Linked DNA regions of Homo sapiens: region 2 is linked to region 1. The links come from fine-mapping of genetic effects on gene expression. A gene starts in region 1. The other region holds a variant in brackets. All regions are shown on one strand. Distances are between the middles of the regions.

The links. PIP is the estimated chance that this variant, and not a neighbour inherited with it, causes the effect. A credible set is the group of variants that fine-mapping cannot tell apart.
Region 2: its variant is the best candidate, but not a certain one, in a credible set for the expression of CCDC40 in gastroesophageal junction (GTEx, PIP 0.54).

What each region holds. Positions count from the first base shown.
Region 1 is chr17:80,034,743-80,039,263 of GRCh38, reverse strand. It overlaps CCDC40 (coiled-coil domain 40 molecular ruler complex subunit), which reads right to left and starts at 2,622. Exons shown (of 20, transcript NM_017950.4): 1 at 2,573-2,622; 2 at 1,078-1,141. The coding sequence starts at 2,601. TBC1D16 (TBC1 domain family member 16) reads left to right here and starts at 3,392. Exons shown (of 12, transcript NM_019020.4): 1 at 3,392-3,469. RefSeq lists enhancers at 1,820-2,114, 3,014-3,133 and a silencer at 3,324-3,393.
Region 2 is chr17:80,126,525-80,130,786 of GRCh38, reverse strand. No RefSeq gene overlaps it. Among named protein-coding and RNA genes, the nearest start is that of EIF4A3, 18 kb to the left of the region's middle. The variant A/C (reference allele first, on the strand shown) is at 2,032.

The DNA of each region.
Region 1 (4,521 bases):
TCCCAAGTAGCTGGGACTACAGGTGTGTACCACCATGCCCAGTTAATTTTTCCATTTTTAGTAGGGATGGGGTTTCACCATGTTGGCCAGGCTGGTCTTGAATTCCTGGCCTCAAGAGATCCATCCGCCTCAGCCTCCCAAAGTGCCGGGACCACAGGCGTGAGCCACCATGCCTGGCCCTCTCTGCTTTTCATAATCATTTTTGCATCCTTTGTTACAGGAAATGAGTTCCGAAAAACTCAGGGCAACCCAAAGTTGGACATCCTTTGCATCCCTGACTAATCACTGACACTGTAGAATGGGGTAGGAAGAAAATGAGTCTCTCTTCAACTGAATTGAGTTTGTTCTGGTGCAAGATAATGTCATCATACAATATACTTGACCAAGTCCTAATTCTCTTTATTTATTTATTTTTAATTTAATTTTATTTATCTATTTTTTGAGATGGAGTCTCGCTCTGTCGCCAGGCTGAGTGCAGTGGCACAATCTCGGCTCACTGCAACCTCCATCTCCCAGGTTCAAGCCATTCTCCTGCCTCAGCCTCCCGAGTAGCTGGGACTACAGGCGTGAACCACCATGCCTGGCAAATTTTTGTATTTTTAGTAGAGACAGGGTTTCACCATGTTGGCCAGGATAGTCTCGATCTTTTGACCTCGTGATCTGCCTGCCTCGGCCTCCCAAAGTGCTGGAATTACAGGCGTGAGTCACCGTGCCCGGCCTATTTATTTATTTTTGAGATAGAGTTTCACTGGTCACCCAGGCTGGAGTGCAATGGTGTGATCTTGGCTCACTGCAACCTCTGTCTCCCGAGTTCAAGCCACTGTCCTGCCTCAGCCTCCCGAGTAGCTGGGACTACATGTGCGCACCACCACGCCCGGCTAATTTTTATATTTTTAGTAGAGATGGGGTTTTACCATGTTGGCCAGGCTTGTCTCAAACTCCTAACCTCATGTGATCCACCTGCCTTGGCCTCCCAAAGTGTTGGGATTACAGGCGTGAGCCACAGTGCCCGTACTCTGATTCTCTTTAATTCCTAGTAAATATAAGCCCGGAATAACTGCCCATAGGGAATTTTACCATGTGGCTTTCATTATTCCCTTCCTTCTCTCCCTCAGAAGCCGATCCATCTTCCGGATGGGACCTGGTTTTAGAGAAACAATTGAACAGTTTCAAGCAACAGCTTTCTTTTTCTTGGTCCTTATCCCCTCCTGAATTCTGCACATCTGTTTATTTACTTGTTACTTCTCTGCCACCCCCAGGCTGTTGTCACGTCTTTGTCCTGTTTGTCAGGAACCATAGCACTATATCATGCCTGTCAGGTGGCGGAGATGCCACAAAAGCAAAGCTCCATGAATGAATGAAAAATATAATTATTAAAACATCGAAGGAACAGCAGGATTAGATCACCCCAGAAAAGTCACCTCAAATATAACTTGTGTCTGGGACAAAACTGGGGAAAAGAAATACAACGTAGAGAAAGTAGCGCGATCAGAGTAAGTGTTCTGGGGACTCTGAGTTTCTCCACGATTTACGTAGCACAGGAATATATATATATATATATATATATGTATATCTTTTTTAAAAAATTAAAGATTCAAGCTATTTTTATCTGTCAAAGGAATATAGATATGTTCAAAGAGACAGACAGTGACAGTTCCCTGTGATCTTCCCTTTCCTTCCCAAGATAATCATTGATAACATTTAGGACCACATTCTTTCAACATTTTTCTATGTTTTAAACACACACACACACCCTGAATTAGAGATCATAGTATACCTACCCTTTTACATTTATGCCTATCGTTTTATTAATAATACCTTTAGTCTTTCCATGTCAATACATACAGACCCACCTTTAAAAAAATGAAACAATACCGATGTGTCTAAGGTAAAAAGGCCAAACTCTTTCCAATCGTTTCTATCCTTTTAAACAGAGCCTAAGCGAGCAGAGGCCCGGTGGCAGGGATCTTCACTCAGCCGCCCTCCCTGTGCGCGCTCAGTGCTTCCACCCAGGCCCCAGGACGGTGACCGCGGACTATCGCGGGCCGCCTAACCGCAGGGACCCCTCCCATCGCGGGTCACCCCCAAGCCTGCGAGAGGGGATCTGTCCTTGCAGGAGGGAGGCGCGGGGCCGGGCTGGTCTCCGGCCACAGCGAGTGGCCCCGGAGCAAGGTCAGGGGCGGTATCCAACAGCCCCGCGCCCTGCAGAGCCCTCTACTCTTAGGAGGACTGCGCGCAGGGACCGCCACGCAGAGTGGTTGCCATGGTGACTGCAGAGTGAGCGGTCCCGGGTTTTAGAGGGAGTCGCGCGCTTGGAGTAGGGGAAAGAGGGAGGCCGAGAGAGGACAAAGGGACAGGAGGGGAGAAGTGAGAAGGGTTGGCGGGGGGGTGAGGGGCTGAACGCAGTGGACGGGAAAGGCCAGCAAAATGGCGAGAGAAGGGACACAGGCGAGAGGAAGGGGGAGTGGAGGCGAAGGGGCGAGGCAGGAGCCGACGCGGGGGCCACCTGGAGCGGTGAACGGAGAGCGCGGCCTGGCGACTCCAAGACCCGCTGCCCCTCGGCCCGGCTTACCGGCCCGCCGCGCCGCCCGGTTCCGCCATTTCCCGTTGCTAGGCGACGCTGTCAACATCCGGCCGGGCCGGGACCACGCGCGCTGCGAGGGCGGGGGCCGCCGGGGGCGGCGCGGCCTTTGTGCCATCTCCACGCACGCAGAGGCGCGCGCCGTCTCGACGTGTCGTCCCTTAGACTGTAATGATTAGAGCACGACCATGCTTTTCCTTTATCGCTCTCTGCGCCCGGGTCCCGCCTCGGCTGCGCTCAATTTCTGTAAAGCGACAGCGGCGTCAGCGTGTGCCCAGCGGGCGGCTCGAGGTCCCGAAGGGACCTGCCGGGCACCTGGGGACCCCGGACTGCTAAGCGCCCGGGAATGGCAGGCGGGCTGGGGGCACCGGGGGCCGGGGACCCCGCGCATGGCGAGCGCTTTTCCATCTCCTGCCCTAGGGGGCTCCGGTGCCCTTCTCCAGGGGTCCTACGGAGACTCCTTGCATGGACGCCCGGGGGGTCTTCCGGAGCGTATCTTCCCTTCCTAGTCCGAAATAGGAGAAATCTCCCTGCAGAGGGCGGCAGCGGAGGGCCAGCGCGCACGCGGAGCGTCCGAGGAGCCCTGCCTTTCCTTTGGGGACGCCAGGCTCGGGACGGGGCACAGTCCCCGAGGCCGGGACGCGGCGAGGCCTGAGGGAGGGCCAGCAGGGAACTAGAGGCTTGGGCCCAGGGCTGGGCCAGAAGGTGGGCGGGGAGACCGGCGGGGGCAGGCAGGGGCCGGGCCGGGGGCGGGCCCGGGGGCGGGCCGGGGGCCGGGCCTCCCCGCGCGTCCCCGCCCCGCCGCGCCTCACTGGCGGCGGCAGCGGCGGAGGCGACGGTGGCGGCTCTCGGAGCCGGCGCGAATCCGGCCCCCGCAGCGGGACCCGGGTGGGTATCGGGGCCCGGACGGGGCCGCGGGGGCGGGGTCCGAGGGGTCCACCGCGCAGCGAGCAGCGCCCCCTCGGCGGAGCTGGGGCGGGGGCGCGCGGGGCGCGTGGGGCGCGTGGGCCTGCAGCCGCGGGACCGGGGAGGGGCCGGGGTCCGGCCGCCGTCCTCGGGGTGCGGGGCGCCAGCAGGAGCGGGAGCGTTGTGGGAGGACCTGGATCACGGAGGGGCACCTGGGGACTTTTCCCCGCGGCGAGTGAGGGCGCCCGGGCCCGGAATGGGCCTAATTCGGGGAGACTGGTCCCCGCCTGTCTGGAGCGGTGGACCGGGGAACTTGCGGTCTTTGTCTGGCTGAATCGGCGGAGCAGACGGATGAGAACTTGTGGGGTGCCGGCGCGCGCCCACACAGCCTCCAAAGTGTGCGTCCCCCCAGCAGCGCGCGCTCAGCTTTCCCGGCCTGTCGGGCTTGGTGGTCTGGGCTGTTTAAGATCCGCGTGTCGGGATACTCACTTCCGTTCCGCCTGGGCTCCCTTGTTCTTTCCTTTGGGAAAAAAAAAAAAAGAAAAAGAAAGAAAGAACGAAAGGAAGGAAAGAAAAAAAGGAAAGGCAACTGAAGATTGCTAAACATAACCTAGGGGATCCTGCCGGAAGCCGCTGAATCCTGAAATCCTGTGATTCCCACACTCGGAAGCTGGTGTCGTATATTGGCCACAAAGTAGTTCAGATTTGATTCAGAAATAGGAAATGAATAGAAAAGACATAACAAAAGTTAGTCTCGCCTTATGGTAAAGTTTGTTTTACTGTCTGGGTCAAGTTCAAATGAGAAGCTGGGCTGATTGGCCAGCCTCTGCGACTTGATCCTGAAGATCTGCTTTCTTTTCTACCAGAAGGCTCCTAATTCTTTTATCTGGAATAAAAAGGGAACTCCGTCTTAAAGATGCTCACGTGAGGCGGCATATTGCCAGAGGGTGGGCGCAAAGACTGGGGGCTGGAGATTCCATTCCAAATCTGTTACTGATTGATCAGAACACTTTTTCAAATCCATGCCTCAGTTT
Region 2 (4,262 bases), 92 kb before region 1:
CAATATCATATGAATATAGATGTAAAAATCCTCAAAAAACTGGCAAAACAAATCCAGCAACATATAAAAAGGATTGTACACTGACAAAGTGGGATTTATCGCAGGAATGGAAAGTTGGTTTAATATCCAAAAATCTGTCAATGTAATACACCCTATCAATAGAATAAAGGACAAAGTCCACATAATGATTTACAGATGCAGAAAAAGCATTGGACAAAATCCAGCACCTTTTCAAGATAGAAAATAAGAATGGAAGGGGGCTGCTTCAACCTGATAAACAGCATCGATGAAAAACCACAGCATTACCCGCTAAGGTTGGGAACAAAACAAGAATGCTCTTGCCACGTCTATTCCAACATTGTACTGGAAGTTACGAGCCAGGACAATTAAGCAAGAAAAGAAATAAGGCATCCAGATCGGAAAGGAAGAATCAAAACTCTCTAGTCACGGATGACATGATTTATACCTAGAAAATCTTAAGGAATTTACACATTTAAAAAATCACTTATCAGAACTTATAAATGAGGTCAGCAAGGTTGCAGAATATATGTTCAACATAGGAAAGCCAGTGTTTCTGTACACTAGCAGTCTGAACAACCTGAAAATGAAATTAAGAAAATAATTCCATTTACAATTGCATCAAAAAGAGTGAAATATGTAGGAATAAATTTAACAAAAGAAGGGCTATACTTGTTCACCGAAAACTACAAATAGCTTGTTGAAAGGCATTGCAAACCTAAATATATAAATGTCCCAGGTTCATGGATTGGAAGATAACTTTCCCAAACTGATTGATATAGTTAGTTAGGCTTTGTGCCTCCACCCAGATCTCATCTTGAATTGTAATCCCCCTAATCCCCACATGTCAAGGGACAGACAAGGTGGAGGTAATTGAATCATGGGAGCAGTTCCCCCCATGCTATTCTTGTGATAGTGAGTTCTCACAAGATCTGATGGTTTTATAAGGGGCTCTTCCCACTTCACTTGGCACTTCTTGCCACCTTGTGAAAAAGGTTCCTGCTTCGTCTTCGCCTTCCACCATGATTGTAAGTTTCCTGAGGTCTCCCCAGCCACACTGAACTGTGAGTCAATTAAACTTCTTTCCTTTTTAAAGCACCCGGGCTCAGGCAGTTCTTTATAGCAATATGAAAATGGACTAATATACTGCTCTGCAGTGTTTAGGAGAATGTGGAGAAACTGGAACCCCCATACATTGCTAGTGGGATTGTAAACAGGCACAGCCTTTATGGAAAACAGCTTGGCAGTTCCTCAAAATGTTGAACATAGGAGTTGACCTAGCAATTCTCCTCCTAGGTCTATACTCAAGAGAATTAAAAAATCTGCACACATAAACCTAATGTGTTCATAGCATTGTTCATAAGAGCCAAAAAGTGGACACAAGCCAGATGTTCATCAGCTGTAAGCAAAACTGGTGAATCCACACAATATTACTTGGCAATAAAAAGGCATGAAGTGCTGACACACTACAACCTGGATGAACCTCGGCAATATGCTAGGTGGAAGAAGGCAGACACAAAAGGCCACACGTGGTGTGATTCCATTTACATGAAACGTCCTGAACAGGTAGATCCATAGAGAGATTAGCAGGAAACCATTCACAGTGGTTTCAGGAGCTTGAGGGGGGAGGAGGGGGATGGGTGAAACAAGGAGTGGCTGAAAATGAGTATAGGGTTTCTTTTGAAGGTGATTCTAATGTTCTGGAATTAGATAATCGTGATGGTTGTACAAGTGTACTAACAACTGAATTGCATACTTTAAAATGGTAAATGTTATGGCATGTGAATTACATCTCAGCACAAATATCATGAGGAATCTCATGCATCCTCTAAAATTACACTTAAAAAGCAAAAAGCACGAGCAAGGGAAAACAAGCAAATTGCCTACTGCAAAATTAAAAGACAGATATTGTTAGGCTGGATTATAAAGCCATACACAACTATATACTATTGCTTATGAGAAATATAAAGACAAAAGTGAAAAGATGGAGAAAAATACACCATGGTAACGCAC[A/C]CATCAAAATAAACCTGAAGCAGCTCTATTAATATTAGACAAAGGAGATCTCAGAGCAAAGAATATTGCAAGGGACAAAGAGAGTCATTTGATAATGATAAAGGGGTAATTCATTAAAAGGATATAACAATACTAAATACCTATGCACCTAATAACAGCTTCAAAATACAGGAAATATAGGAAGGAAAAATGGATAAAACTGCAAGGGGAAATAGACAAATCCACAGTGGCAATTGGGGCTTTCAGTAACCCTCTCAGGAACAAGGCACAGGTGTCCTCTCCCTTCTGTTCAATATTACACTGTGGATTCTGGCCAGTGCAACAAGGCAAGAGAAAGAAAAGGCCTCCAGGGTGGAAAGGAAGAAGGCTTTCTTCACAGATTATATGTTTCTCTATGTAGAAAATCCTAAGGAGTCTACCACAAAGCTACTGGAACTAATAATTGAGTTTCGGGAAGGTAGCATTCTACAAAGTCAATATAGAAGAGTCAGTTGTATTCCTATATGCCAGGAATGAACACTTGGAATGGGAAATTTGGAAAACACCACCATATACAGTACCATCAAATACATGAAATACTTGGGGGTATATTTGACAAAAGATGAGCAAGCTCTGTAATTGAAAGCTACAAAACGTTGCTGTGAGAATTAAAGATGTAAATAAATGAGAGATACACTGAGCAGATTGGAAGAGTCGATATTGTTAAGACATCAGTTCTCCCCAGGTTGATGTACAGACTCAACACAATTCCAACCAAAATATCAGGAAGCCTTTTTTGGGAGAGTGGGGATAGGGCTAAACATTGACAAGCTAGTTCTAGAAGTTATATGAAAATACAAAGGATCTAGCATAGCCAAAACAACTTTGGAAAAGTGCACCAAGCTACTACTCATACCAAGAAATATTATAAAGCTACAGTAGCAAAGGCAGTGTGGTATAGTCATAAATATAGACCTGTTGTAGATCCAGGGAAAACAGTAGAAAGTTCAGAAAGACTACACATTTATGGTCAATGGATTTCCAACAAAGGCACTTAAGCAGTTTTATGGGGAAAGCATAATGATTTTTGGTTGTGTGTGTGTGTGTGTGTGTGTGTGTGTGTGTGTGTGTGTTTTTGAGATAGTCCAGCTCTGTCACCCACACTGGAGTGCAGTGGCCACAGTTATAGCTTACAGCAGCCTCGACCTCCTGAGATCAAGGAATCCTTCCACCTTAGCCTCCTTAGTAGCTGGAACCACAGGCATGTGCTGCTGCATGCATCTAATTTTTTATTTTTTTATTTTTAGTTTTTAAATTTATTTATTTTGAGACAGAGTCTCACTCTGTCACCCAGGCTGGAGTGCAGTGGCACGATCTCAGCTCACTGCAAGCTCCACCTCCCGGGTTCACACCATTCTCCTGCCCCAGCCTCCCGAGTAGCTGGGACTACAGGCAGCCGCCACCACGCCCGGCTAATTTTTTGTATTTTTAGTAGAGACGGGGTTTCACCGTGTTAGCCAGGACGGTCTCGATCTCCTGACCTCGTGATCCACCCGCCTCGGCCTCCCAAAGTGCTGGGATTACAGGCGTGAGCCACCGCGCCCGGCCTAATTTTTTGCTTTTTGTAGAGATGGGGTCTTGCTGTGTTGCCCAGGCTGGTCTCTAACTCCTGCTCAAGAACTCCTCCTGTCCCGGTCTCCCAGTGTTGGGATTACAGGCAGGAGCCACCACACTGGCCCAATAAAGAAGCTTTATGTGGTAGGTAGAATAACTGTCCTCAAAGATTGCCAGGTCCAAATCTCTGGACCTTGTGAATATGTCACATTACATGACAATAGGGACTTTGCAGAAGTAAGTGCAGGATCTTGGATGGGGGATCCTGGATAATCTAGGTGGACACAATCTAATCTCATGAGCCCTTAAAAGTCAAGACTATTCTTTGGCTATGGTTGGTCAGAGAATGATGTGATGGAAGGAAGGACAGGCATGAGAGGGACTCAAGTCCCTCATTTCTGGGGTTGAAAAAGGCATGAGCCAAGATATGGGGGAAGCCTCTGTAGGCTGAGAAGGACCTCTGACTGACAGAAGGGAAACAGAGACCTCAGTGCTACAACTGCATGAAACAATTCTGCCAGTAGCCCATGTGGGCAAGGAGACGGATTCTCCCCTGGAGCTTCTGGAAAGGAAGGCAGCCCTGCTGACACCCCGATTTCAGCCAGGAGAGCCCTTGTATCAAATTTCTGACCTATGGA